Regions from separate parts of the Homo sapiens genome. Here regions 1, 3, 4, 5 and 6 are each linked to region 2. Evidence: fine-mapped expression QTL. A gene starts in region 2. Each other region holds a variant in brackets. All regions are shown on one strand. Distances are from middle to middle.

Region 1 (5,075 bases), 44 kb before region 2:
CAGGTGATCCACCCGCCTAGGCCTCCCAAAGCGCTGAGATTACAGGCGTAAGCCACCGCGCCTGGCCTCAGGGCTTTAATATTAAGGGATAAGTGGAGAATGGGTACTGGGGGACAACTAGCTGTCTTTGCCATAATTAGAACCCAGATCAGATTCCAAAGCTTGTATGATACTTGCCTTGTGTATACACATATATTACGATTAGTCATTTTGTTTAAAAAGATGAAGTTCTGGAAATACAGCCTCAGTAGTGAGGCCATATATACATATATATGTATACGTGTATATATATGTGTGTGCCTGTGTGTGTGTGTATATATGTATGTGTGTGTGTGTGTGTGTGTGTGTACGTGTTCAACCTAAAGGAAAAAACCTGAGGCAAAATTAACATAAGTAGAGAGTTTATTTGGGCCAAGTTTGCGGACTGCAACAACCCAGGAGCATAGATTCTAGTCCCCTGAGTAGATCCTCCAATTAGCAGCAGTTACAAGCAGGTTTTTAAAGGAAAAAAGAAGAGGTAGTTCCTAAATTGTTTACCAAGAATTCACATTAAAATAACCTAAGCTACTGATTGGCTGTACATTGGTCTTAGTATCACAAATTCCAGAAACATGAAGACAATGAGTGAGGCAGGGAAGAAAAGAAATAACAACATGTCTTTAAACAAGTGCTCCCCAGGCAAAGAAAGGGGTTCCCAGTGTAACTGAAATCCCATACTCCTGTCTCTCTGGGCCAGGTAAATTTTGCATACCTTACATAATGCAGCCTGCTCTGAGCTATTTTTCTTTTCTTAATATTAGATCGTTTTTAGTGGAGGTATTTCACATTTATTAGGACCTTATTATGACTATCTGACAAACGAATATATTGTACCCATTTTATATGTAGAGAAGCATAGGCACATAAGCCAACTACTTTTATTTGATTCTTAGGAAGCCACAAAGTAAGCAAGTCATTGGGCTCAAATATAAGGAAAAAAATGTTCTTGGCTTAATAAATATTTGGTGCCTGAATAAGTGATAAGCTCACTTGTCCTCAGAAATATGTAATTAGCAAAATGAAACATCAGCAGAGAATGAATCTTACTAGGGCAATAGTTACAAGGCAAGCTGAGTCACCTAGAAACTAAAAAAGAAATCTGCACTAAATTAATTTCATTCACATTCAGTCACACAAACTACTGAATAATTCATTTTGTTTGAATAGACAGCAGAACTAAAAGAATGTGGATCCTGGAAGTAGAACAACCAAACAAAACTATTATTCCTTTATTTTGCTTTATACAAAGCCAATGATTGTTAACAGCCTTTGGAAAATGGAATTTTGAGAAATGCTTTTGGTTTTCATTTTCTATACTTTATGGACAAAATATATGGATTTTTACCACAAACATGTTTTCTTTTATTACTTAAAAAAGAGATCTCTTAGAAGTTAGAGATTCTTAAAACATTATTAATCTTTAAAAGGTTGCTACTGAGACAAGTACCTTGGATTAGGGTCATTTTTCATCAGTCCATTCCTCATAAGGCAAAAAGTTGAGGGGAGGCCCAGCTCAGGGTCTGTGAAAGGTCTGCCAAACTCTGCTTTTGCAGTGCCAAGGGACAAGGTGAGCCCCCTTCCTCTCTATGCCATGTTAGGCGTAAATAAACATAATTAGCATTTATTGAATTTTTTGTCAGAAACCCTTCTAAATCTCTTTCAAGTAGCACCTCATTGAATCCCTTCAGCAAGGCTGTGAGGTAGCTGTTACTATACTCTTTATTTCATAGATGACAACACTGTGGAACAGAGAGGTTATGTGACTTGCTCAGGCTTCCACAATTAGCAAGTGGCAGAGGTAGGAATTCGACCCTGGATGATATAGCTCCAGAGTCTATAGTGTTACCCACTAAGGCGAAACATACCAGAGTGCGGGTGACTCAAGGCTTAATCAGTTGAAGGGCTGGCCAGGAGACCCTGGGCCCACTGAGTACAGATTTATACTCCCAGTTCCGGAACCAGAGCAAGCTCAGGAAAGGCCTAGCTGGCTAGCATAATCAGATGCAGGGCAGTGGGGGCTGTGGGGGTCAGGAGGTGGGCAGCAGATGCCAAAGGCAAGGAAATGTTCCCTAGAGGTGGAGAGAGAAAGCCTTTCCCTCCATTAGGCTTCAGTCTTTGTCATTCAAACTTATCTCTTTCCTCCCCTAC[A/T]TTCAGAATTCCTCCTGCTTTACAGAAGAAAAAGTGCGCAGGGTAAGCAAGAATTAATGCTGACTGTTTTCATTTTAGTATCCACTATGGCTCTATGGGGAAGGGAACCTGGGAAAATATTTGTTTGGGTTGATAAGTGCTTTCTACTTACCCACGAGGCAACTCTAGGCTCACAGGACATAGAAAGCAGCCCTTGAAAGCCTTATCCAAAGATAAAATTCTTTATAACCCTGTTGGTTTTCATCCAAACTCTACACCCTTTTGTTCAAATGAAGGAGAGCAAAAGCAGTGGCAACATAGAAAAGAATTTCAACTATTTGAGACCCACCCTTGTTTTTGCATCTCCTACAGAGGTGGAGAAAGTTATCCCACAGAGAAGTAAAGCAGAGGAATTTGAGATAGAAGACTGGGACAATGAATGAATGTGTTCATTCAGAGAGCCAGAGAAAGCATGTGTGCCCCAATCTCCATTCCTCTGTTTCTGTCCAGCTTCACTCACCTTCTCTGCTCCCATCCTGGATAAGCTCACTTACCTTCCCAGAGCCCAGCTGTATCAGGCCAGAGGAAGCCTCTGATGATTTGGCGGCAGGGAGATGGGAGTGGAGCAAAGCACCAATGCCCAAAAGCCCCCTGTGACTCCACAACACACTTGCCTTTATACCCACTTGCACCTGGGGATGTGGCAGGTGCTTCTGTGCACCTGGAGAGTTACAGAGCTCTGTGTACACATGACTCCTCATTCACACTTTACCATATAGGTGTGAGGGGCCAACTGCCTTCCTAATTCACAAACCATAGTTGCACCTACGGCTCTGACAAGAGCAAGGAGAGAGATGGAAACCACAGGCTTACTCATGAACTTATCTTCACATCAGGGAATACACAGTACTATTCTAAAAATCCATTTATATAAAAATGCATGTATCTGTAAAAGAGTATGTTAGGTCACATTTTAGATGACCAGGTGTCTTGATTTCACTCCCTCTTGGTGATATGGGAAAATATAGATGTCCAAGGAAGCTTTCCCACTATAACAGGCGCAACTCATATCACTTCAGTAGATAAATCGGGAAGCACATTATTGCTTTGTAATTTCTGAATCTGGACAAAGCTGAAAGGAGAGTAATTTAAAGTCATTCATGGTGTTTATTGAGATTCTTAGCAGCTTCTCAATGGCTCTAGAAGCAACAGTGCTGAGTTTATGGAATGGCAGAGAAAACTTGGATTGCATTAAATATTCAAGGCTGAGGAGCCTATCTAAGATGAGATTCTTTAATGCATCCTAGCAGAGGGCTTTAACCTGGGCTTCTGTAAGTATGGGCTGTCCCTTTTCCACTTGCTTCCTTTCCTACGGTGTTATATTTAGTGGTCAAAAACATGGTCACTAGCCAACCTACAGCAGTATAATTTATTAAGTTCCTACTATATGCTTGATGCTTTACTTACATAACTTCATTTAATGTATATGAAGGATGTATCTCTATTTGTATCTTGCAGAGCTAAGAGACTGGTTACTTACAAAGGCAGTAAGTAGTTAAATGGAGATTTGAACCCGGATTTGTCAGTTTTAAAACCTGTGCTTTTAATTGTCATGCTATACCACCAACTTGCTTCCAATAACTCAAACTAGCCTTGAATTTTCCAAATTGAAACTCATCATATGGAAGACAGATGGACCATTTATTTGGCTCTGGGTCCCAACATGGTGTGGAGGAAGTTGTGAGAGCTGGCCTTTCCTTCCCCAGCAAAGCAGAACTGGAGGCTTCCCATTAACATGCATTAATAATTCTTGCCCAGAATTCTGCAAAAGTCTTTTTTAACACCAGATAGTTGGTTACAGTAAAAAGAATGCGATTCAATTCATATTAATTCTATCAGGACCTTTTCAAAATGGGGAGCTTTTTGTGTCAGGTTTGCAGAAGACACATTTCTGATGTGGACTGGGATGACTTGGAAGAGGGTGTGGTCTCTCCCACAGGACAGTTAATGTGCAGTGTTGTGTCTTTTAAAAACAGAAAAGGAATGTCATGTCAGGGCTAAGGAAACAGCAAAAAAAAAAAAAAAAAAAAAAGAATTTCCCTATCATTTCAAGCAACTATTGCATGTTCCTTCTTTGGTTTTCGGTTTTCCCAGGAATAGACCAGTGGGAGTGGAGCAGAGAGGGGATCTTTGCAACCTATAGATAGGATGCACGACAGCTGAGAGAGGAAAGTTAAGCCCATTGTTTCTCATTATCTCATAAGGAGTGATAGAAAATGTTGAGAGGCCAATTATAAAAGGAAGTTGGGGATGAGAAGGAAGTAGTTCATGAAATAGAGAAAATAATGTTAAACCTTTCTCCAAAAATATGTGAGTCTCAGTAGTGTGCACCCCAGGCCTAAGCTAATATATGCAGTAGGTGAGGTTTATATCACTAGCATTCTGTCACGATTTCCATTCTGGGACCTTTTCACATCTTGGCCTGAGGTGTTCACTTGGCTTTGAAATTCTCCCACCAGATGAAGTAGGAATGAATGTTTACTGAGAATTTACATGTTTCATCTATTTAAATCTTATAACAGCCCTATGACAGTGGAACAAAAATTATTCCCATTTTATGAATGAGGACACTAAAGGATAGATTGATTAAATATCCTGCCGAAGGCCTCACAACTAAGTAGAATTTAGGATTCAAACCTAGGCAGTCTTATCGCAGAGCAATATTCCCAACCTCCATTCACCATGAAGCATTAGTGACCAAAAAAAGGATCAAACTTAACCCTAAATAATAACCCTCTGAAGATGGAATTTCAGAGATTGTACCATCTGGTATGAGAAGATACATGGAGGTTAGGGAGAGAAGGGGACATCTTTTCTTGGCCATTTGGTTGAGCCAACTGGCTTTTACA
Region 2 (5,075 bases):
AAAGCACTTAAAACTGTTGCTGGCACTCTGTGTTAGCGATTACCTACATTTTTTTATTTGCTCATTTTGGACACTCATATAAATATAATTATACCATTTATAATTTTCTGAGACCTTTCAAAGTCAATATTATGTTTTTGAAACTCATCCATATTGATGCATGCATATGTAGTTTATTAATTTTTCTTTTTAGTTAACACATCATGCATGTATGTCATATCTCTCTAAGGTAATTGTAAACTTTGGAGAGCAAGAACCATGTTTTCTATCCTCTGTGCTTTCAAGGAGTTCGTGGTAGCATTTGTGATTTGTTCTTTGAGATGATTAGCTGTGTTTCTGAGATATCTAAATTGGAGAAGAGGAGACTGAGGGAAACTTCCTAAGGGTTATTGAGGTTTTATATGGAGTGTGGTGACTTCTCATTCTCTATCCCCATTGAGCCTTCAATTTGGGAAATATCCTAAGCGTCCCTGTGAGAGACTTAGGCGTATAATTATAACTGGGTATTTACTGTGTACCATGTACTGTGTCAGCTTCTTTACATAAATTATCCTACTTAATCCTCAAAACAAGCCAAATGAGAAAGTATATTATTTTCTAGGACTTCTGTAATGAAGTACCACAAACTGGGTGGCTTAAGCAACAGAAACTTACTGCATCACAGCTGTGGAGGCTAGAAGTCCAAGGTCAAGGTGTTGGCAGGATTGGTTCTTCTGAGGGATGTGAGGGAGAATCTCTTGCAGGCCTCTCCCCTAGCTCATGGTGGTTTACTGGCAGTCTTTGGTGTTCCTTGGCTTGTGGATCTCTGCCTTCATCTTCACATACTATCCTCCCTATGTCTATGTCTTTGTCTAAATCTCTCCTTTTTATGAGGAAGTTAGTCATATTGGATTAAGGACCCATCCTCCTCCAATATGATATAAGTTCATCCTAACTAATTATATCTTCAATGGCCCTGTTTCTAAGTAAGGTCACATTCTGAGGTACTGGGGGTTAGGACTTCAACATATGAATTCAACAGGGGAGACACAATTCCACCCACTTAAAATGAAACAGGCCTACAGAGGTTATGCTAACTTTTTGAAGTGGAATAGCTAGGGCCCTCAGGTTCACGTGGTAACCAGGTAGTTCTGAGGTGGGAGGTGAGGGAGGTAGTGCAGGTCCCCAAGAGCCACGGGGATGCTGCAGTGAACTGGACTGTGTGCAGTCACTCCCATAAGTTGTCCAGACATGAGGTAACAGAGTGAGCTCTGGAATTAGTCAAATCTGCCACTCACTAGCTGCCTGATCTTAGGAATGTTTTTCAAGCCCTCAGAGCCCCCATTGCTTCATCTGTAAAATGGGATAATAGCACCCACCTCATGAAGTTGTGGAGATTAAAGGACATAGGACAGTAGTTGAGAAATGTAGTGATTATCAAAATGGACACCCATCCTCTTATCCCAACCACACAAAAGAGAGCTTTAGTCCACATCCAAATTTCCTACACCTAGGCCCATTTTAATTAATTTAATTTATGTAACTAAGTGCAACCCTTGTCCAGAAACATCATTCAAGTGGGGATCATGGTAGGGGGTGGTAAAAGGGTCAGAAAGGGGAGATGCAAAGGAGAGCTAGAGAAAAGGATAACTCCAGTTCTCTGCCTGTCAGTGTGTCTCAAGGTGGGCATTATTGGTATTTGGAGCTGGACAGTTCTTCCTGTTGAGCTACTGTTCCATGCATTATGGTAAGGTTGATATCCCTGGGCCCCTGAGTGCTAAGACATTAAATACCAGTAATAACCCCCAGTCATTGTGCCACCCAAAACACCCCAGACATTTCCAAGCTCTCCTCTAAGGATGGTTCCAGCCCTGATTGACAACAATTGGTGATCCCAGCAGGACCCAAGCTGTACACTGTCTTTGGGAACTGCTGCAGCCACCAATGCAGGGATGAACTGACTGTTGCTGCTCAGTTAACCCTCAGTGTCTGATTCCTGAATTCCTCTGGGGTGATCCCTTCTCACTGCTGGATTTCTCCAACCCTGTTGTCCACAGTCTCTTCTGGGAGAAAATGGTGCAATTTCAAGGTTGCAGTTACAGGAGGAGGGGACAGTTTCTCTAGGGTAACACTGGGAGTATCTTCAAAACCATGCAGTAAATAAAGTGCCAAAAATAAACACCTTGGGTCAACAGCTCCTCACTGTCATCTCCATTTGCATTTTCTAAGCTTCTGGCCACCTAAGAGATCTTACAACACAGTGGAGTGCTCTGGGAAACCCCGAAATGAAGTCTCAGTATTACTCAGAGAGATGTGTGTTTGTTTGTGCAGCCAGACAGAATTTGGCACACGTTGGGTAGCTCGATATGGTGATGCCAGCCAATGGTGCTCGCGTAGAAGCTCAGTGTTCACTCATCCCTTTGGGAGGACTGCTTTTTGAGTTACATTTTCTTCTTTCTCCTTTAGTGATACAGTCTGAAGTATCAAACTGAGTAAATATTGTGAAATGCAAGATGTTTGACCAAAACCAGTTATCTATTCATTGACTATAGATTTAATCGAGCCACATAAAGCCTAGATATGGTTCAGTTTGGTTTAAATGCTGTAAAGTTTCCAATCCTTAAATGCAAGAGGTTTGAAAAAAAGAAAAGAAAAGAAAAGAAAAATGCAACTATTACTGAGCAAAATAAAAGCTCTGTCCTCTAAATGCCTGCTTTGGTTTAACATAGTGGCTTGCTTTACTTTCAGATAAATTGTAATTGAAGCAAAACCAAGATATGAGAAATATGAACTCCCTCTTTCAACAAAACCCATTGTGTTCAAATTCATAAGCAAGAAAGTTAAGCACCCACCTTCCTCTTTAAGGAAATATGAAAGTTGTTGCTTTGAAATAGAATTCATTGCATTCAGACTTTGAGTGATATCTGTATTCATATCCAACCGGATCTGCAGCCCTCTTCAAAAAATTCTTTCTCCTCAGTGGTGAGAATTACCCCACCTGGGATTCACTCTTCACAAGGCTCAAGAAGCCTATTCATATGAATGAAACTGCTTTCTTCAGGGCAGATGCGGAAGCTGCCCTCCAGAGGGCTTGGGCAACCCAAGGAAAGGAAATCACCTCGGTCGGCAGTGTGACTGCTGAGACTGCCGGGGCTGCTGCCTGCTGCTTCTCGCGCCTGTCCTCTCCAAGATGCAGTTTTTTGATGCTGAGGAGCTCCTGGTCGATGAAGAGGATGATGTTTTTGGTGAAGGTAAATGCATCTTTCTGGCAGGAGGCTCTCCGGTCTGCTTTGCTTTGTTTTGACACCACTGGACACTTTTGCCCAGCTTGGGCAAGGACTTGAGTATTTTGAAATGATAAAAACAAAGCATCCTGAGTGAGGTAGTGGCTGCAAATATCAACTTAGGCACTGAAGGAATACACAAGGCAAGGGGTGGAACAAGGGGTTGAGTCATTCCCGCAAATACATTTTTTAAAGTCATGACTAAAATAAAGGTTTAGTTTAGGCTGGAAAATAGTACTAAATTTTTTGCCTTGTCTCTCTTCTGTGCTATCTCTTGTCTAACACCTTAAGGAAAGCCTGTCACAGTGGTTTGAGCACAGCAGGGCTGCTAGGGAAGAAGTTAAATAAATGGACCAGGAGTGGTTTTTCATGGTACCATGTTGCTTTGATTTGCACTTCTCTCTTTCTGTCTCTCTCTCTCTCTGTCTCTCTCTCTCTGTCTATCTTTCTCTCGGTCCTTCTCTTTTTTTTTTTTTTTTTTTTTGTTGTTGTTTTTTGAGACAGAGTCTTGCTTTGTTGCTCAGGCTGGAGTGCAGTGGTGCAATCTCAGCTCACTGCAACCTCCGTCTCCCGGGTTCAAGTCATTCTCCTGCCTCAGCCTCCCAAGTAGCTGGGACTACAGGCGCCCACCACCATGCCCAGCTAATTTTTGTATTTTTAGTAGAGATGGGATTTTGCCATGTTGGCCAGGCTGGTCTTGAAATCCTGACTTCAGGTGATCCACCCTCCTTGGCCCCCCAAAGTGCTGGGATTACAGGCGTGAGCTACCATGCCCGGCCTGGGTCCTTCTCTCTTACTCTTCCTCACACATACTTGGCACTCCAACCCTCCATTCCCTTTTCCAATTTTCTTTTTTCCCAAGTCGGGATACTGGAGCCCTGGTAGCTTCCAATCCCCATTGGCACTGCTCAGTTTTCTGTTCTCATCTTGCAGCTTTTCCATGACTTGACCTATCCACTGGAATTTAACTGTAAAGGTTGCGATTTTAAAGGGATGATCTAGTCATTGGATGGATGTTTTGTTCAAATGCTGCCTATGAGATTGGGCTATAGGCAAAAGCTTTTTTAGAATTTGGAGCCACCTAAATAAAGGAAATTTGGACTCAAGAATCTCGTGAATTTGATTATTTTCCGCAAGAAACTACGTCTAGCAATTTTTTAAAAAACTCTATTCAGTAATTTTTTAAAAGGAACAGTAGTAAGGTTTTTGTGTATGTGTAATTACCCAAGCAATACAAGTTCGCTGAAGAAAAATTAGAGTGTCGCAAAGAACCCCTTGTAATCTAGTCATGTAGAATGTAATCATGGTTAATATTTTGATGTTGTCTTTCTGCTATGTTGTTCTAGCTACAGAAATATTTAAAATCATTAGTTGGGTTTTTATCACAACTTAAATCAATTTGAAGAATATCTATTGAGCTTCGCTGCTGTTTACCAAGTTATCATTCTGTTGTGTTACTTTGATGGCAGGCGTTTAGGCCACCAACACCTTGAAGTTTGATCTTAGGCCCCATTCTTCAGCTTTCACTTCTTAAAGATGTTTCCTCTTTAAGCAAACACCTTAAAGAGAAAATTTATACTTAGATACTAACTCTTTTGAGGACCTGAAAAATGCTCACAACTATGAAGATAAGCTTAGAACGGAAAAATTGGCAATCATTCACCCACACCTCCCTCCAGGAATGGCATTCCAAAACGCCCAGCCCACATTTCTTTGCCTATAGGAATTTTGCTCTTTTACATCTGGCTATGATACTTAAGAGCGCCCTCTATAGGCTGATGCACTGCACTCTGGATTATGCGTGGCCCCATC
Region 3 (5,075 bases), 130 kb after region 2:
TTGAATCCAGGAGACAGAGGTTTCAGTGAGCCAAGATTGCACCACTGCACTCCAACCTGGGCGACAGAGACTCCATCTCAAAAAAAAAAAAAAAAAAAAAAAAAAAGAATGAGAGAAGGCCACACCTTAGAACTTGCCAAAATCTTGGAAAAGAGCTGCAGGCCTGATAAAGAAAGGAATTAATACCTCAAAAGAAAAAGTTAATGGCCTGTGATCAAAAACAGCTCTAGGGCCAGGCATGGTGGCTCATGCCTGTAATCCCAGCACTTTGGGAGGCTGAGGCCGGTGGATCACCTGAGGTCAGGAGTTTGAGACCAGCCTGGCCAACATGGTGAAACCTCATCCTTACTGAAAACACAAAAATTAGCCAGGCGTGGTGGCGCACACCTGTAATCCCAGCTACTCAGGAGGCTGAGGCAGGAGAATCGCTTGAACCCAGGAGACAGAAGTTGCAGTGAGCCAAGATCACGCCACTGTACTCCAGTCTGGGTGACTGAATGAGACTCTGTCTCAAAGAAAAAAAAAGAAACAGCTGTAGGAAATTTTGCCTTGTTACTTGGTTAAAAAAAAAATTACCTTCAGGTGCCCAAATAGAAAGCCCACAGTGATTGCTATTTGGGTGCTTTCCTGATATCCAGTGATATATCAGTGACAGATGTCTGTGATACAGACAAAGTAAATAAAGACATAAGGATACAGTGATCTGCATGGGTTTTCATACTCTGAATCCACTAGACTGTAAATTCTTGAGGACCAGAACCATGTCTGGTTTACTGTGGAATCTCTCATGCCTTATGAATAGTCTGGTTCATGGAGTGCTCAATAAATATTTGTGGAACAAACAAATAGAAGAATTGTCATTAATGGCCTTTACCTCCTCCTCTATTTTAGCATATAAACTAAATAGTAAGAATTTTTTAATTAGAGCCATTTTGGAATCAGTGAGATTCAGTGGAAAGAACCAGGGAAAATGGATTCTACTCTGGAAAAGCAAGCTCGTCACTTCACTCCTCTAGACCAGGAGTGTGCTGTGGAATGAGGAATTTAGCTGATCATCAGAATTCCTGAAAGTAAGAACTCTGGGCCCCATCCCAGGAAATTCTGATATAGTGCATCCGGAGTGGCACCCAGGAATATTGGGTTTCAGACACTCAGCTAGGTTTGACCCCATAGGTAAAGTGGTTTTTAGCATTCCTACCAGCTGGCCGGGCACAGTGGCTTACACCTGTAATCCCACCACATTAGGAGGCCAAGGCAGAAGAATTCGACTAGCCTGGGCAACATAGTGAGACCTCATCTGTACCAAAGGTTAAAAATTAAAAATCAGTCCTGGCTACTCAGGAGGCTGAGGCAGGAGAATTGCTTGAGCCCAGGAGGTCAAGGCTGCAGTGAGCTATGATTGCTCCATTGCACTCCAGCCTGGGCAACAAAGTGAGGCTAAAGTTCCCACCAGTTGTGAAATGCCAAGTCTCGTGGTACTCTAGACCTAAATGTCAAAACACGATTTAACCTATTTTTCCCCCATAGGCTACTGAAAGCATTAAAATGCTGGTGACATTGTGTCAATCTGATACTGAAGAAATCAGAAATGTGGCCTCAGAAACCCTCTTGTCTCTGGGTGAGTTTTATTGTTGTTGTTTACATGATTGTTTGCTTCTGGCACTCTCTAACGGATGTTCCCATTTAGATGTTCCCTTCTCCAGTAAGGAGAAGTTTCATGTACCCTGTTTAGCAGTTTCCCCGCTGTAGGCTGTCTTCTCACACACAGAGTACGAAGAACTGATCAGTGTCTATCTCACCCCAACTCCTTGTTCTGTCTGGATGCTGAGAGTGAACTATATTGTCTGGAGACTTTCTATATGGATTGATCAGTCTGTGTACTATTTAGAATCAAGAACACAGAAGTCAAACCATAAAGCAAAGGCAATAGGAATCCAGGCTGTGTTGCCAGGTGGGGTTGACATTCCCTGGAGGACAGAAATTGGGTGAGGTACCAGAGATGCATCCCAGGGAATGCTGTAAATCCCCAGGTATCTCAGCCTCACCCTGACTCCCAGGTTAACCTCTGACTGCCCTGTGGCCTCTGCCCATCTGAGCCCTGATACCTAAGAAAAGAATTGGAGTACTTATTTTATTCTGAAATATCCAGATAATCCTTCCTCTTCACTTTATTTTATGAAGGTTCATGCCTAGCAGGCATTATACATTTATTCTTTTTTGGGGACTTGGGAGGGTGGGGAAAGCCTTTCTTAACTCTGTATTAAAAAGTATAAATAGCTGGGTTTGGTGGCTCACCCCTGTAACCCCAGCACTTTGGGAGGCCAAGGTGAGTGGATCACTTGAGGTCAAGAGTTCGAGACCAGCCTGGCCAACATGATGAAACCATGTATCTACTAAAAATACAAAAATTAGCCAGGTGTGGTGGGGTGCACCTGTAGTCCCAGCTACTTGGGAGGCTGAGGTAGGAGAATCACTTGAACCCAGGAAAC[G/A]GAGGTTGCAGTGAGCTGAGATCATGCCACTGTATTCCAGCCTGGGTGACAGAGCAAGACTCTGTCTCAAAAAAAAAAAAAAAGAAAAAAGTATAAATAATTATTATAAATAATTTTACTTCAACAACACAATCTTAAAGTATAAAAACTATGCTCCTAGAAATCCTCAGACATAATCCAATCAATACTGCAGCTTAGAAAAAAGCTACCCTTGTTTAGTGATACTAACTTAACAACATGAAGAAGAATCTCATGGCATTTATAATCACTGTGAAAATCCCATTTATTGTTAGGCCCTCTTTCTTACAATTATGGGTTTAACAAGGCTTCATTCTGCTATTGAATATATGATTTCTTCCACAGAAATCTTAGCCAGTATATATTTGTTTAAAGAATAAAAGTTATTCCTTATGGTTGTATTAGGCATAGAAATTATTTAATTCTCTAAAAATGTACCAAGGTATTATTAGTTTAAACTCCTTTATCCCTTCATATTCTAAAATAACCATGAAGGTAAGCCAGGCGCTTATAAAGCATAGCCAACGAAGCTTCTATTTCCAGTGTAACCTAAGGAAGCTGATCCTACAGAATGTGCCCCGGGCCTCACTGGAGCTGTGCAAACAGCAGCATCTCCAGAAGCCATCACCATACCTGCTTCACCTTAGCTCTTCATGCACACTGCTCATATCAGCCCTGGGCCCTCTCACACCACCAGTGTGCAGTGCTCAACACTGGCTGCACATTTGCCAGGGAAGCTTAAACAATCTACTCCCAAAGATTCTGCTTTCATTGGTCTAAGTGTTCCTTGGCATCAGGATTTTTTAAGGATTTTTTGAAGCCTCCCAGGTGATTCTAATATAAAGTTTGAGACCCCCCTGAAGTCAATATTATGAATCTTCTTTGACCCTAATACACAAATACTGGCACATTTTTCTCTTACACAAATGACTGAATTAATATAGTGAGGATAGTATTTTCAATAGGAATTGATAAAATGCCCTATGACAAAGGGCAGAAGGTCATTGCGGGCACTTAAAGGACTCAGGGCTGCAACTATTTACCAACTAGTATGGAATGATTTCGACATTTTAACCTAGAGCTGTCCAACAGATCCCTCCATGGTGATGGGATTGTTCTATATGCGCACTGTCCAGTATGACAGCAGCCATCCTAAATGGCTGTTGGGCTGTTCACCTTTGCCACCATGGAGGAACTGAAGTTTTAAGTTTACTCAATTTTGAGGATAGCTGCTCCTTGACTTACAATGGGGTTACATCCCAATAAACCCGTTGTAAGTTGAAAATACTGTTAAGTCAAAAATGCACTTAATACATCTTACTTGCAGAACATCATAGCTTAGCCTAGCCTACCTTAAACATGGAGTCTCTCTCTATCACCCAGGCTGGAGTGCAATGATGCAATCTCGTCTCATTGCAACCTCTGCCCCCGAGTTCAAGCAATTCTCCTGCCTCAGCCTCCCAAGTAGCTGGGACTACAGGTGGATTCCACCACACCCAGCTAACTCTTTTTTTGTATTTTTTGGTAGAGATGGGGTTTCACTGTGTTGATCAGGCTGGTCTCAAACTCGTGACCTCAAGTGATCCACTCACCTTGGCTTCCCAAAGTTCTGGGGTTACAGGTGTGAGCCACCACACCCAGCTGAACTTCTGATTAGGCACAACTATTTCCATCTTTGTCTCACTTGCATTACATGTATGAAAGCCTGCTTCTTATCACTTGTCTTTGCATTTTATTTTCTCATTTTCTAAATCATTTTTTAAAGTAGAAAAATAGAACAAAACATTAAAATTATTTGCAATTGCATCCTAACTGTTCAAGGTGGCGTTACGGACAAAACTGAACTAGCTGGTGGCTGGTAGAAGGCATCTCTGTATGTTTACATAGTAAAAAGTAATTTTTAGCTGAAGTTTGAAAGCCTAAGATTGATTTTACCACATATCATTTAGATGTATCGATATATAATGTATACAAGTAAAAGTTATGTAAAAGTTCAGTGCATTAGCCATATTGAAATCCCTAATGTACTTAAAATATAATCCATACAATTGCTCTAAAATAAATCGATTATATGAAATCATCAACATCAAATGGCCATAAGACTTCTACTCTGTTTCATACCCTGGCATTCTTTTGGTCTCTGGCATTAATTAGCTCAAAAGTTCTTGGTTGTTCTAAGCATTACCTGGAAAACAATGACATAATTAGGAATAACAAAAGATAACTTTTCCTTACCAAAAGTTAGCATAGCATATTATAGCAACCCATCCCTAAACAAATGGCACTATGTTACTTTGAGTAATTAATAAAAACGTTGTTTGAATTGGTATTCATGTTTAATGTTCTGTATTTAGGAGAAGATGGGCGGCTGGCATATGAACAATTGGACAAATTTCCTCGAGACTGTGTTAAAGTCGGAGGTCGTCATGGAACTGAAGTTGCCACAGCCTTTTAATTACAGGTTAACTGCCTAACAGCTGTCTTAATATCTGGCCCTTTTCATCAGGATGGTGCTGTGGTTTGGGCTGGAAATTGTTTAGAGCCTGAGAGACACGACAACTGAAATAA
Region 4 (5,075 bases), 72 kb before region 2:
TTTGATTACAATGCACACACATATATGCACACATTATATACATGCACACACATATATACCTACATGTACATATACATATGTGGACATATATATAAACCCAATTCCTAATTTATAAAATTTATAAAATATTAAAACATGTAACCACCATTTCTGTTGGCATTCCTAGCCTCCCTCCACTGCTCATTGCCAAATTCTTCTTTTCCAATGAGTCATTGTAAAAACAAATTTTTTTTCATAGATTCTGTAGATGAAAAAGTGAAGAACAGGATGAAGTAACATGGGAAGATATTTGAAGGCAGAAGATATAAGGGACAGACTCAAGCAGGGTCCCAACTAGAGAGAACAACCTTTCCCAACCACCCAGGCAGAGAAGCCATTCTTTATCTGTGTCCCTATGCTACTTGCACACACTTCTAGTGTAGCACGCATGGGGATCATTTGTTGGCAGTGGTGTCTTCCCCTATAACCTATATGCTCCTCAAAGGCAAGAAGTCCATCTTATTTATTTTTGTATCTCATCCTGTCTAGTGTCCCTTGTAGCACCAGAGACCTAGCAAGCACTAAAAAAATGTTGGCTTAAGAAACGTTTACGGAGTGGAAGTGGAAGGAAATCTTTTCTTTCCTGCTTGCCTGAATAATATAGGATCTATAGCACAGGCTCCTACTTATAAAGCCCATATAAATCCTGGCGCTCCCATAGCCCAATCCTAGTATAGAGTTCTAGTCAAAAAATGCCATCTAACAAGAAAAAGTAATTTTAAAATAATTCTAATTTTCACTTGAATCTCTTGAAGGACACTGTCTCAGTTCATTTTGTTTTGCCCTAAAGGAAAAACTGTGTAATCTGTCAAGTAAAGAGGCTTATCTGGCTCATGGTTCCGCAGGCTGTACACGAAGCCTCGCACCAGCATCTGCATCTGGTGAAGGCGTCAGACTGCTTCCACTCAAGGCGGGAGGTGAAGGGGTGCCAGCTCTGTAGAGCTCATGGGGTGACAGAGGAGGAAAGGGGGAGGAAGGAGGGCCAGGCTCTTTCTAACAACCAGCTCTGGTGGGAAGAGGGGACTAATATAGTGATGATTCAATCATCCCCAGGGAGGGCACGAGACTGTTCATGAGGGATCTGTCCCCATGGCCAAACACCTCCATTAGGCCCCACCTCCAACATTGGGATTAAATTTTAACCTGAGGTTAATGGGGGACAAACATTCAAACTATAGCAAACATTAAAAAGAATTAAACTCATAACCTACTATAATACCTGTAAACATTTTCCATTTGCTTCCTCTCCAGTTTTCTCTTCTCTTGAAGCTGTTCTTGATCCTCTGTCTCTCTGAACTACTTCCTCCTAACTCTCTCCTGGAAGTTCTTCTGGGCATCCGTTCTCCCATGCTCTCCTGCCTCATGCCACACCACAGGGCCTTTCCTGCTGGCCACAAAACCCACTTGGCCCAGGGCAGTAGAAGGCTGTGTGGCCTCTTTGCTTGGAGACAGTTGAGTCCCCACCTCCACCCACAGGAAGTATCGTTCTTTCCTTATCCTGCTTTCCTCCCAAAAAATAATCATAAAGAATTTCTGGAATTCTATTATCTGTTAATATTACTTGTTATCTCATGAGTTAGATAGACTTTATGGGAGAGCTTGAAACTTGACCACCATTTAAAACACGGTTTCTGCGGGAAAGGCCACCATACATACTGAACCGCTGATTTACAAGCCAACTTTTGGAATACAACTTATTCATAAGCTGGGAGCCATCTGGGTGGTAACGAGCTTTGTGGTTTCTTCTTTTGGTTTCATGGTTTTGAATGAAGTTTGATCAAAGTTAAAATGGAGGAAACATTTCCTACGAATTCATTGGTATTTATCTGGCAGAAGTAAATATTTCTGGAGGAATATGGACTTCAGAATGGTAAGACGATTTCTAAGGGATTTCTCTTGTTTAATCGACCAAATTAACAACTCAGGCTGGAGTATTTAGGATTGAGTTACCAGAAAGAGGAAAGTGAATTCAGAGAAACTGCTAATCAAGATAAAGGTTGAAAGGCAGAGAAGCAAGGGATAAAGAACACTGTATTCTGTCTGACCTGCTTACAGAAGCAGGTCTTCTCCTGTTTTTGACACTGGTCTTAGTAAGCTCCTCTTCCCTTTGTGCTCCCTACTGCGAGGGGCTTGCCTTTCCCCACGAGACCAACATCACTCGCCCATGCTTTTGAAGCCAAGAGCAGTGGGATGCCAC[C/T]AGCAAGACCCTGCATCAATTAGAGCTCCAGTCTCTGCTTTTGTTGCCTTCTCTGAGGTGAGGCAGCAGTCAGCATGGACAAGAGCCATCCTGCATCAGTGTCCTGGCTTCATCCCTAACAAGCTACATGAGCTCAAGCAAGCTATTGACCTCTCCCTGCTTAGTTTCCCAATATACCAAGTGGAAAGTAGCACCTGCTGAACTGCCAAGAACAGTGCTTCTCAACCCTGGCACTTCCCTAGAGGGAATGGAAGGAGACCCACAAATGCCAATGGCTCCTCCAGAGCCATCATCTTGCCTATCTCCTCATCAAATTTCCTTGGCATCCTGACCAATTTCTACCACTTTTATTCTTGGAGCAGATGTCAGAGAGGCCACTTTCTTTGGAAATCATCTCCTGCTCCCTTTCATATCTGAAATCTCTTATTGTATTGGTGTCCTATTGCTACTGTAACAAATTACCCAAAATATAGTGGCTTAAAACAGTGTAATTTTATTATGTTTTATAGGCCAGAAGTCCAAGTCTTATAGGCCAGAAGTCCAAAATGGATCTTACAAGGCTTAACTCAAAGGCTGCATTCCCCTCAAGGCTTGGAGCCTGTTTCCTTGCCTTTTCCAGCTTCTAGAGCCACCTTCGCTTGTGGCCACAGCATTTCAGCCTTTGCCACTGTCCTCACATCTCTTTCTCTGACTGACCCCTCTTATGGGGACCCTTTTGAGTACATCAGGCCCTCCTGCATGATCCAGGGCCATCTCCCCATCTCAAGACCCTTAACTTAGCTGGGCACGGTGGCTCACGCCTGTAATCCCAGCACTTTGGGAGGCCGAGGCGGGTGTCTCACGAGGTCAGGAGTTCGAGATCAGCTTGACCAACATGGTTGAAAAAAAAAATGCTTAACTTAATTATATCTGCAAAGTCCCTTTCACCATGCAGTTCTAGAGACTAGCATGTGGATGTGTTTGGGGGACCATCATTCAGCTACCATGCTTGTCTTGGCATCACAGTAAAACATGAGGCAGATTCTTACTACTGATTTTAATAAAAATAGTTTTAAAATATTTTTAAAAAATAAAAATAAGGCAGAAACAGTTCCATTTGACATTTTCATTGGAGGTATTTCCAGTGTTTCCAGCATTGGTTGCCTGGGATGATGCCACTAAACATGATAGGAAATAGAGGTCGGGGGCAAACTAGGGGTGAGGGCAGGTGGGGCTACAGCATGCTTATTTGTTGGTATGTTGTGTTTGAGGTCCCTCCCGGATATCAATGTAGAAATGTCTACAGCAGTTGGAAGAACAGCTCTGGGGCCGGGGAGAAAAGCCTGGGCATGGATGTAAATGTGGAGTTATTGACAGAGATGATACAGTTGAAGCCATGGGGGTGCCTAAGATCACCGAGAAGGAAGATGGGGAGGGCAGGAAGGAAGGGCCAAGAGTGCAAGGTGTCTGGGGAAGAAGAATAAGGTCAGAGAGCACAGGACTTTTAGAGAGGCCAAAGGAAAATGAAGTAACAATTATAAAGATAATAATTGCCTGCATATTGGTAAAGTGAAACTTCATTTGATCATATCTTGCTTATTATGTACATAGGGAAAACCCACTCATTTTATTTATGGTAACATTTTTCAGTATGTCACATTCACAAAATTGACCAAGTGAGGATTTGTCATAGTATTGAGCGCCCGTGGTGGAGCAGGCAGTGTCAGTGATGAGAATGTGAAAATGAATCAGCAGGTCCTTTGTGCTCACTTCTTCAACCCACAGGATAAGACCAACAATATCAGAGAAGTTACCTCCTCTGAGAAGCAGGCCACTACTCAGGTGGACTAGAAGATCCAGCTTACCGTGTAGACACAGAATAGCCTCTGTTCATGGTATTTTGCCTTTAATAGGCTTTTCTTTATCTATTGAAGATATTAAGATACTGGCCATTCTCTCCAGCAGTATTAAGAAGACTAATAATAATAATAACAAAAGTCCATGTCACCATAGCCAAAACAGAAAACAGAGCAGAAACTTGGTGAAGTTAATCAAATAATTGCTGCAGGCCCTTGGTTATGGAGAACTCTCCCTGCTTTTGGTTGAGCAAGAGACCCTCCCAGAGCCTGGCACTGGGATTCCCACAGCGTTCCATTCCAGAGCCACAGGGTCCCAGCAGGCACACCACACAGCATTTGAGTTCCAGCTCCTCTAGGCTTTCAGCCATGGCACAGTTTGTTTGTTTTTCCCCAAAGCAAAGTGCTGCCTGGCAGCTGAAAAGAGTGCATGTTTCCTCTTTCTCAACCTGGCTTCTTATATAGCTGTGCTATATTTGGCAGCTCAGTCTTACTTCCTATTCCAAATGCTTCCTCTTCCTGTGGGGAGAATTCTCAGAACTCTCGTGGCTCTGGTAGGTGTTATCAAAAACTTGTGCAAGGCCACTTGGTGGTACAGTCCGTACTCCACAGAGCCACCTCCCAGCTCAGTGACTCACCTGTGCCTGGAGGACACAGGGGATGAACTCTTCAAAAAAAGAACAGAGAGTTCCAGGACACCTTTCACTTGAATTGTGATGAAGGTTTAATAATGAACAAAAGCAGAGGGAGATTGGAATTTGTGGGGGTGAGGTGGCAAGAGAGATTTGAAAAGACAGATGAGACTTTAAGGCCTGAAGACAAATACAATTTATTCCTCAAAGAAAAAGTAGTAATTATTTGTTTGAGATCTATCTTCCCCTGTAGACTATAAGAATCATGAGAACCATGAGAGGCCATGCCATTTTTTGTGCATTGTTTTAACTCTAGTAAAGTGCTGGCTGGTATTATAGTAGGTGCTCAATTAATGTTTATTGAACAAATGA
Region 5 (5,075 bases), 36 kb after region 2:
TAGATTGGTTTATACGGTCAGACACAGAAAAAGGTCAAATATGACCACAGTGTTGTGTTATTCCTATCAAATTTCTTCCCTGTGAGGTAAATAACATGATAGTAGCAGTCACAGAACAGCCAAATCTAAAGCTCACCTTCTCCTCCTGCAGAACATTGGTCTAAGAAACCCATTCTTAAATTGTATATTAGAAGCAAACTGTTGCACATTTTGGTTTGTTTGCCGGGGGAGGATTTGGGAAAGTGGAGTTGGTACCATTGAGAAGGAGTTTAGTTTCAAACTGGCTAATCTAGCATGTGAACAAACAGGAATCCAAATAACTTGTTTTCAAAGCAGAGCTGTCTCAATGTAGCAAGTATAGGTAGTGCAAACCTTACTTCAGGAAGTGTCCTCAAATTGGGGTCCCACTTAGGAGATGGAGAAAAAGAGAAGGAAAAGTGCCAGTCGCGGTGGCTTGCGCGTGTAATCCCTACACTTTGGGAGGCTGAGGCGAGTGGATCGCCTGAGGTCAGGAGTTCGAGACCAGCCTGGACAACATGGTAAAACTCCAGCTTTACTAAAAATACAAACAAATTAGCCGGGCATGGTGGCGGGTGCCTGTAATCCCAGCTACTCAGGAGGCTAAGGCAGGAGAATCACTTGAACCCAGGAGGCGGAGGTTGCAGTGAGCCAAGATCGCGCCACTGTACTCCAGCCTGGGCAACAAGGTTGAAACTCTGTCTCAAAAAAAAAAAAAGAAAAAGAAAGAAAGAAAAAGAAAAAGTAATTGGATTGACTACTATGCTCTGACACCTGCAGTACATTCTGCCACAACTGGCGATCCCTTACTTCCTCCAGCCAGTTGACTGCTGGTCTTTCCTTTTCTACCGCTTCTCTTCTGCACAGGCCTCCTTCTTTGATACCTAAAGTCTGCTGTTCCTCAAGTTTAAGTTCAAGGTCCAGTTGAGAATAGTCATCACGATACTTTAGTCCCAGTGATAGTGCCTTATATCTCTGTGGATTTTTGCAGTTTTGAACAACTTTTACAACCATGGTCTCATTTAAACCACAGAACAACCCTGTGATGTAATATCAATGTCTCTAATTTCACAAATTAGGAAACCAAACGAATGGATTAGCTGGTTAGCACTGAGATGTTCTGACTCCTCACTGGGCGCTCTCCACCCCGGGAGGTCCACTTAGCCAGCCTGGAGGCAGCAAAAACTGTGTTTCTCTGGAGGGAGGAGAGGTGATTTGTTCTTCCTGCCCTCCCCCTTCAATCACCAAACTATGGCCTATTTGAGGTATGACCGTTTTCTCTTACAACACGACTAATGTCCTCAGTTGGACACTTGGTTTTGCAAATGGAAACCTGCCCCTGTAATGACATAAAGGTCAGGAATTGCTCCCTTTTCAGGCTCCCATGACATTCCAAAAAAAGTTTGCCCTTTGAATTTTGTCATAATGGTCTTTGGCCTAAAATAGGATAGAAATGGCACGTGGTGTTTCTTTTTTAAGGGTCATTTTTTCTTTCCAGATCCTCAATGTGTATTTCTTCACATTAGGATGTTTTCCAGATGTAGTTTTTGTTTTGGTTTGGTTTTGTTCTTTGGTTGTCACAAAATGGCTCTTTCCCTCACTGATGGAAGAAAATAACCAAAGCAGGAAGGGACTAAGGGGCTGCATTAACTCAAGATGTTTTCATAAATGTGAATATACAGTAATCAGGCTAAAGGTACTGAAAAAAGCCCTATTGAAAGGATGCATAGTTTTTCGTGTAGGGGACTAGTTTCACTCCTTTATAATCCAGCTGGGGGAGTATAAGCCTGGCCAAGCCTGGCACATAAGATTCTGCATATGGTAAAAATGACCTTCCCTCTATCATCTCCCTTTAGGTGAATCATAGATCTTGAGTGTAGGTACACAGGCAAGGCCTTCCTGGGCACAAGAGGAGTTTGAAGCCATCGAAATTTTCAAAAAATAAATACGAAGTCTAAGGCAGGTGTGGTGGTCTGTGCCTGTAGTCCCAGCTACTCCAGAGGCTGAGGTGGGAAGATCATTTGAGCCCAGGAGTTCAAGTCCAGCTTTGACAACCCCGTCTCTTAAAACAACAACTACCACAACAAAAAGCAAGACAAAACAACAACAACAACACATAAATGCAAATTCTGAATCACAGATATGTGTACACATATTTCATATTGCATATTGACAGAAAACTACAGAGTCTCACT[C/G]TGTCACCCAGACTGGAGTGCGGCGGCCAGATCACAGCTCAGTGCAGCCTCGATCTCCTGGGCTCAGACGATCCTCCCATTTCAGCCTCCTGAGTAGCTGGGACCACAGGCTCATGCCACCACACCCAGCTAATTTTTGTATTTTTTGTAGAGATGGGGTTTCACCATGTTGGCCAGGCTGGTCTCGAACTCCTGGGCTCAAGCATCTCCCTGCATCGGTCTCCCAAAGTGCTGGGATTACAGGTGGGAGCCACCACGCCTGGCCAAGCTTCTCATACAATGAAACATCCAATCTAAATAAACATGTTTTATATTATTATAAAAGTAATAGCTATCACTAAATAGCATTTCTAATGTGCCAGGCACATGTACTAATTCATTGAGTGCTCACAACACCCTGAGGTAATTACTCCATTTTATAGATGAGAGAATGGAGGCTCTGAAAAATTACTAAGAGGCAGAGCTTGGTTTTAAACCTAGGCCGTCTGGCATCAGAGTCTGGGCTGTGCTGCGGCTGTGGATGTAAATACACAGACTCCAAATTCAGAGCCACAGTTCCCACAGCAACTGCCAGTTTGTAGCATGTTCAAAAAGCCCGAGTTCTCCCACATAACTTAGCTGAGTTGTGGCTGCCAGATCTTTTGGCTTAGCAACTCGAAACAGAGACTGTCCACGTAGGCTGAGGTTCTCAGTTGATACCAAGGCGTTGATGAGACTCTTCAGGCTTCTATTATAATCAAGAAGAAGATTTTTCACATCCTCCATCTGAAAGGTTCATTATTCCAGCTGGGTAAGCTGTGTGTCTGCAAAGATGCCCTATCATCAGGAAATGAAATGGGCACTTTTTCTCCAAGTAAGCAATGCATGCTGATAAATAACGCCATATCAGTGGCGTGCCTTCTCCTTCCTCTTGCAAACGATTGACGCCTCAGAGATCTGAACAACCCCACAAAAGGGGAGGAAAATGGAGAAAAAACAAACTTGAGAGAAAAAAGGAATCATTCCTTTTCTTTTGTGAGGACTTTTGTCTGATCCGTGCCCACATGTAAAGTATCCCTTGATCAATTTTGTCTTAATTACTGAATGTAGGAAAACAAGCTCATTGTTAATTCATGCAGTTTTAATTTATGCATAGGAGAATTATGCAGGATAATTACCTGCAGTTGAAGGAAAATGAATAGCGTCAGATGTGGTTAATTCACGCATGGTTTACCCTTCTATCTCTCTATCAGAAAAGATTTAAAGTGGTAACCAATCTGAATGATATGCAAAATTGCATTGGTTTGCTAAGTAGAAGTATTTTTTTTATTTGCATCACAAATAGAGTTCTCAGATTTGGACTGACTAGATTTGAATATAATTTCCAGAACAATAGCTGTGATTCACTGACTTAACTCATATGTTATCTCTTCCAGAAGTGCCCATTTTTCAAATCAGTGCAAAAGAAGCTATCTTCATGGGCCCCATGTTAGCCTGAGTATAGTTTCCTTTATGAGGATAATTCAATGAGAATGATAATTATTTCCTATATCAAGATTTGTGGGAGATTTACGGTAATGATCACACTACTTGTTCCCACATTGTCCCTGAACCTTCATGATCCAGTGGCTTCCAAAAACTGAAACAAACAGCTGGAACAAATTATGGGGCAATGAATGGACATCAGTGGAAATTTCCTTGTGACTTTTGTCAAGCAATAGATAGCTGCTAAGGCCTCTTTGAACTCACACCTAGTAATTGAGAGAAGGCTAAGAGGTGGTTCAAGTTTACTGAAAAAAAAAAAAAAAAAAACTACTCCCTGATGTTGAGTTGAGACAGGTTACAATAATGAACAATTTTGAAAGGAGAATACCAGTATCAAAAGGAGGAGCCAGAGAAAGTAAATATGTTTTTGTTATGACGGAGCAGTAAATTTTACTCTGAGCTTCCTTGTAACCAGGCAGAAAGGGGAACAAAGGAAGTTATCACCTAAGTTCCTGCTAGCAGAAAGATGGGCATACAAAATACAGCAGTTCCTTAAAGGACACATTCCCTTAGTGATGAATTGTAAAAGTAATGTCTTATATGGGAACGTATACACGGGAGGTTAAATTGAGCTAGTTCATTGCAGTGAAGTTCAAGAGGCAACACCTTGCATATTGATCTTCATTCTTATTTTCTTATCCCTCCATCAAGCTCTCTAAAGATCCAAAAAAGGACAACCAAAGGAAATTTCACAAAGAGAAAAAGGAAGATCTCTATTTGGCTCTCAATTGCCCTTTTTTGAGAAAAAGTGATACAACTTATCTAAGGCAACTTTACTTGCCATAATCAGATTTTGTCTGCAGAAAATATTAGCAGGGTGAGTTGAAGATGACTTACCTCCTTGCCCCACACCCCCTCACAGAGGACCCCAGCTTAGACAATGGAGTTACAACTTCATAATAATCATATTACTGTGCCAGAACTTATCGCTTCAGATTATAGGTTCTAGTAAGACCAACTTAAGTAGGAAAACACAGCAAAGTATAAAAACACAAAGCTTTGTTTAGGTAAGGCCATTTGTCTTTTTACCTTTGACCTTAGTGATGATGATGATAATAATAGGATAATAGGTGTCATTTAACTGAGTGCATATTTTGTGCCTAGCATTACACTTTGGCTTGATGTTTCCTTCCTTCCTTGCTTCCTTCCTTCCTTCCTTCTTTCCTTCCTTCCTTCCTTCCTTCTTTCTTTCTTTCTTCAGGGTCTGGCTCTGTCACCCAGGCTGGAGTGCAATGGCTCAATCTCTGCTCTCTGCAACCTCCGCCTCCCGGGTTCAAGCAATTCTCCTGCCTCAGCCAGGCATGGTGGTGCGTGCCTGTAGTCCCAGCTACTTGGGAG
Region 6 (5,075 bases), 120 kb after region 2:
AAATGTTTGACTCCCAAAGCCTGAACCCTTTCCATATTTTCTTATATGGAATAGCAAAAGTTATTACATTAAGTTCTTAAAACTAGATGCAAAGCACTAAAGCAACACAAAAATGCCTCTGTGAGAGCTGGTGTCACTGTAAACCCGGAACCTTGCTTCAAGGATCATAGCTATTGAGACAAAATAAAAGTTGTGTGTGTTGGTTCATTATTTTATGCTTTTCCCCACACCTAGACAAGTAGGAAATATCCACTGTCCTCCAACTATACTGTTGCATTCAGATGTGGTTGCTTCTTTAATTATCCAGGACTGGTCAGAGGAGATGCTGGTGGCCTCTGCATGGTGACAGGGGCTTCTGGCTTTATAATGTGCCTTCTGTTTGCTTCCTGGAATTGTTATGAATCTAAGCAGCCACCAATTCTTAGGCAACCACTCAAACTAAAGTGAGCAACCTTATGACTCAACAGGCATTTAACAATAAATAAATAGGCCGGGCGCAGTGGCTCACGCCTGTAATCCCAACACTTTGGGAAGCCGAGGCGGGTGGATCACCTGAGGCCAGGACTTCGAGACCAGCCTGGCCAATATAGTGAAACTCCATCTCTACTAAAAATACAAAAAATTAGCTGGGCGTGGTGGTGGGCACCTGTAGTCCCAGCTACTCGGGAGGCTGAGGCAGGAGAATTGCTTGAACTCAGGAGGCGAAGGTTGCAGTGACCTGAGATCGCACCATTGCACTCCAGCCTGGGTGACAAGAGCAAGAACTCTGTCTCAAAAAATAAATAAATAAATAAAAATAAATAAATACGTAAAGTGAGCAACCTATTCAGTAACCCCAAAATTAACAGGGTCAGCTATCATCTCTGAAGTTAACATAGACAGGTTTGCCCTATCACCTAGCATGTTAGCTTGGCACCTAACAAGTACCTAGTCATCTCTTCATGGGACAAGTGAATTGATATTTTCAGATATATTTACACACATGGTTACAATATTTGTGTTCCTGAAATGAGGGAGACAAATATTTCCACCAACATAATCAAACTAAATGAATTATGACTCAGCATTTTGCACAGACACCATCGATTGGTTTCTGACCTCCAGGGCCAGCCCTTGTTAAAATTATAAAGTAGATGAACTTCAGCACAAGACTCCTCTCTATTTTCCCCTGCCCATTTCTCTGTCTCTCAGGTTTGTTTTGGATTTTAATGGCGGGATCCTACTTTGTTACACAAGCTGGACATGCACCACCCAGGTGGTGCAATCATAGCTCACTACAGCCTTGAACTCCTGCCATTTCCCTCTTTTACTCATATCAAGGGACTTGAAGGCTAACTATCAAACCATAGGTTTACCCCTTACCAAAACCACATATTCCAAGACTTAAATGGGTGATCACAACTTAAATTGTCCTTCCTCTCGGGCATGTTTGCATTATAACAATGCTTCAATAGGGATGAAATGCTAAAGATGACCTTGGTGTATATCCACCTCTGGAAATGGTAGCTTTGGAGGGGGTTGATGGCAAGTGGCACTTCAGGGACAGTCACCTTGTTCCTTTTGTACTGGAGGCTAGTCCCTGTGTAGCTGCCCACTTGTGGATTGAGGCTTATTTCCTCCCCTTTTGGCTGCTCACCCTCAAGTGAGTAGAGGCCAAAAGGCAAGCCAGAGAGAGGTTTTCAAAAGCCAAAGCCCAGGCTCTAACTATTTAGGTCTAGTAAAGAGCTAGTTACTGTTACTGCTTTTGTTCTTGCTGTAATAACCTATACTGCATATCTTTGTTTCCTTTAAGAGTGTTAAAACTTTAAGAGTGTTAAGCCACAGAGCTGGGCACTGTGGCTCACGCCTGTAATCCCAGCACTTTGGGAGGCCGAGGCGGGCGCATCACCTGAGGTCGGGAGTTTGAGACCAGCCTGACCAACATGGAGAAACCCCATCTCTACTAAAAATACAAAAAATTAGCTGGGCATGGTGGAGCATGCCTGTAATCCCAGCTACTTGGGAGGCTGAGGCAGGAGAATCGCTTGAACCCGGGAGGCAGAGGTTGCAGTGAGCCGAGATTGCACCATTGCACTCCAGCCTGGGCAACAAGAGCAACACTCCATCTCAAAAAAAAAAAAAAA[C/AC]AGTGTTAAACTGGCTGGGCGCGGTGGCTCACGCCTGTAATCCCAGAACTTTGGGAGGCTGAGGAGGGCAGATCATCTGAGGTCAGGAGTTCAAGACCAGCCTGGCCAACATAGTGAAACCCCATCCGTACTAAAAATACAAAAATTAGCCGGGTGTGGTGGCAGGCACCTATAATCCCAGCTACTCAGGAGGCTAAGGTGGGCGTATGGCTTGAACCCAGGAGGCGGAGTTTGCAGTGAGCTGAGATGGTGCCACTGTACTCCAGCCTGGGTTACCAAGAGAGACTCTCTCAAAAAAAAAAAAAAAAAAAAAAAGAGTGTTAAACCATATGTCCACACAAAAAAACCTTGTACACAGATGTTCATAGCAGCATTATTCATAATAACCAAAAAGTAGAAACAATCTGAAGGTTCATCAACTGGTGAATAAATAAAATGTGGTCTAGCCATATAATGGAATATTTTTTGGCCATAAAAAGAAATGCAATCCTAATACATCCTTCAACCTAGATGAGCCTTGAAGATACTATGCCAAATGAAAGAGCAAGACATAGGAGGCTACATATTGTGTGAATTCATTTATATGAAATGTCCAAAGTAGGCAAATCCATAGTAATGGAGAGTAGATTAGTGGTTGCCAGCGACTGGAGAGAAAGGGTCTTGGGAATGACTACTAATGGGTACAGGATTTCTTTTTGGGGTAATGAAAATATTCTGAAATCAGATGATGGGGATGATTTGTGAATATACTAAAAACCATTGAATTATACATGCTGTAGTCTAAATATTATGGTATATAAATTATATTTTCAATTTTTTTAAATGGAATTGTCCTATAAAACTGAGAAAACAGGGGCCGTGTGCAGTGGCTCACGCCTGTAATCCCAGCACTCTGGGAGGCCGAGGCGGACGGATCACAAGGTCAGGAGTTTGAGATCAGCCTGGCCAACGTGGTGAAACCCTGTCTCTACTAAAAATACAAAAATTAGCTGGGCATCATAGCATCCGCCTGTAATCCCAGCTACTAGGGAGGCTGAGGCAGGAGAATCGCTTGAACCCGGGAGGCGGAGGTTGCAGTGAGCCAAGTTTGTGCCATTGCACTCCAGCCTGGGCAATAAGAGTGAAACTCCATCTCCAAAAATAAATAAATAAATAAAAATAGAAAATAAAAGTAATTCAGACAAATAGCAAGAAATGCACAATATAGCCCAACAAAATCAAAAGTTAGTCCTCTCTTTCCACCCTCAATTCTCTTCAAGAGTAATTAAGTTTCCTATGAACCAATATGACATATAGTGATTCTTATTCATTTGAATTAATGTTAAGTACTACACATTTTATCAACCATTTAGGAAGAAATTAGCTTGGTAAAAATAAGACAATTGGCCGGGTGCAGTAGCTCACGCCTGTAATCCCAACACTTTGGGAGGCCGAGGTGGGCGGATCACAAGGTCAGGAATTCAAGACCAGCCTGGCCAATATGGTAAAATCCTGTCTCCACTAAAAAAAAAAAAAAAAAAAATTAGCTGGGCGTGGTGGTGGGCACCTGTAATCGAGGTAGGAGAATCTCTTGAACCCGGGAGATGGAGGTTACAGTGAGCCGAGATCACACCACTGCACTCCAGCCTGGGCCACAGAGCGAGATTCTGTCTCAAAAAAAAAAAAGATAATGTACTTTTATGCAGAGATTTTTTAAACAGAGCATTCATTTGCCATGTATCAAACTCAGCAAATCTCAAACTGACATTACCACCCTCCTCACTGGAATGTACTGCCTCCTCCTGTCTTCCTTATTTCTGACTGAATACCTTTTTTTCAATCAACTTCCCTACTGAAATCTAAGCCATCATTTCCATTCCAGTTCAAACATTTTTGTGAAACTTACCCTGGCACTCCGTAAGATGTCTCTTCTCCAAGTGACTGACTTACCTTGTAGATTTCTTATGGGACCTAATACATTTCTTCTCTTCAGTTCCTTCTAAACAGTCTTAGCATTTCTACTACATCTAAGGGCTCCTTAAAAGCCAGAATCATAACTCTCTCCCAATTTTATTTAATAAATTGATCCCTTATATTCTCCTAGAGTCATGGACTCTAGGAGAATATTTCAAATCTTGGAATGACACATGAGACAAGGGGCAGGAGCTTGCAGGCCTTTATGATGGGACATAAAGAAAGGGATTAACACCTTAAAAGAAAAAGTTAATGATCTGGGATCAAAAACAGCTCTGAGAAATTTTGCCTTCCTCGTTACTTGGTTTAAAAAATTACCTTTAGGTGGCCAATAAAAGCCCACGGTCATTATGTTACTCAATAAATTGATCCCTTATGTTCTCCTAGAGTCATAGTAGATCTAGGAGAACATAAGGGATCAATTTATTGAATAAACGACTCTTTTAATTAATATGAATTTCAATGGCTTTTTTTTTCTTGCTCTGAAGGTAGTGCAAAATGTGTAGGTTATATGCTATAGTTTATCTCAGAGAGTAAGAATGAGGTATACCTCTTAAACTACGAACAAACCAAAATGCCTTCATGAGGTCCCTCCTTCTCTTTCAGGCCTTGCTCTATTACTGTGAAGCACTAACAAAGACAAACCTCCAGCTCCAGAAAGCAGCTTGCCTGGCTCTGAAAATCCTTGAGGTAAAGCCCAGCCTTGGAGCTCCCCTGGCAGCTCAGCTTGGAGCCAGGCTAAGCTGAGTGTATATAACAGCTTTTCTTTCATGTTTGAAAGTACTTTTTTAGCAGTATTTCTTGTCTTCTTTGCACCGTATGTTAGTTTTAGTATTTTTCTCCCTTAAACAGTAATTACATGTGACTTTGTTTTGTTAAAGTCAATAAGTGGCAGAAAGCAATCATGTTTTGCACTAGCCCAAGGGAACCAGTTTGCCTTTAGGTCAGTATTAGAAAAGTACATCTTATTAGCCGGCACAGTGGCTCATGCCTGTAATC

Alleles and levels. Positions count from the first base shown, and alleles are read on the strand shown. Sizes are in standard deviations (SD) of each study's normalised expression. Not every link is listed here.
For the expression in B cells of the gene that starts at base 3,108 in region 2, AC is the low allele of the variant in region 6 and C is the other (small effect, 0.34 SD a copy in Fairfax 2012).

Evidence for each region. PIP is the estimated chance that this variant, and not a neighbour inherited with it, causes the effect.
Region 1: its variant is the best candidate, but not a certain one, in a credible set for the expression of RIPOR2 in whole blood (TOPMed, PIP 0.59).
Region 3: its variant is the best candidate, but not a certain one, in a credible set for the expression of RIPOR2 in whole blood (INTERVAL, PIP 0.89).
Region 4: its variant is the best candidate, but not a certain one, in a credible set for the expression of RIPOR2 in esophagus muscle (GTEx, PIP 0.51).
Region 5: its variant is the best candidate, but not a certain one, in a credible set for the expression of RIPOR2 in testis (GTEx, PIP 0.78).
Region 6: its variant is the best candidate, but not a certain one, in a credible set for the expression of RIPOR2 in B cells (Fairfax 2012, PIP 0.52).

The regions. Positions count from the first base shown.
Region 1 is chr6:24,978,467-24,983,541 of GRCh38, reverse strand. It overlaps a transcript of RIPOR2 not described here. Among named protein-coding and RNA genes, the nearest start is that of RIPOR2, 45 kb to the right of the region's middle. RefSeq lists an enhancer at 2,234-2,804. The variant A/T (reference allele first, on the strand shown) is at 2,188.
Region 2 is chr6:24,933,993-24,939,067 of GRCh38, reverse strand. RIPOR2 (RHO family interacting cell polarization regulator 2) reads left to right here and starts at 3,108. Exons shown (of 22, transcript NM_001286445.3): 1 at 3,108-3,230. The coding sequence starts at 3,170. It overlaps LOC105374981 (a long non-coding RNA gene), which reads right to left. Exons shown (of 3, transcript XR_007059514.1): 1 at 5,004-5,075; 2 at 4,698-4,822. RefSeq lists an enhancer at 2,226-2,395.
Region 3 is chr6:24,806,260-24,811,334 of GRCh38, reverse strand. RIPOR2 (RHO family interacting cell polarization regulator 2) reads left to right here. Exons shown (of 22, transcript NM_001286445.3): 21 at 1,528-1,618; 22 at 4,862-5,075. The coding sequence ends at 4,962. Among named protein-coding and RNA genes, the nearest start is that of ARMH2, 9.9 kb to the right of the region's middle. The variant G/A (reference allele first, on the strand shown) is at 2,490.
Region 4 is chr6:25,006,255-25,011,329 of GRCh38, reverse strand. It overlaps a transcript of RIPOR2 not described here. Among named protein-coding and RNA genes, the nearest start is that of RIPOR2, 73 kb to the right of the region's middle. RefSeq lists a silencer at 2,112-2,264. The variant C/T (reference allele first, on the strand shown) is at 2,237.
Region 5 is chr6:24,897,880-24,902,954 of GRCh38, reverse strand. All of the region lies in intron 1 of RIPOR2 (RHO family interacting cell polarization regulator 2), which reads left to right. Among named protein-coding and RNA genes, the nearest start is that of RIPOR2, 36 kb to the left of the region's middle. The variant C/G (reference allele first, on the strand shown) is at 2,214.
Region 6 is chr6:24,818,233-24,823,307 of GRCh38, reverse strand. RIPOR2 (RHO family interacting cell polarization regulator 2) reads left to right here. Exons shown (of 22, transcript NM_001286445.3): 20 at 4,683-4,766. Among named protein-coding and RNA genes, the nearest start is that of ARMH2, 22 kb to the right of the region's middle. RefSeq lists a silencer at 2,266-2,394. The variant C/AC (reference allele first, on the strand shown) is at 2,124.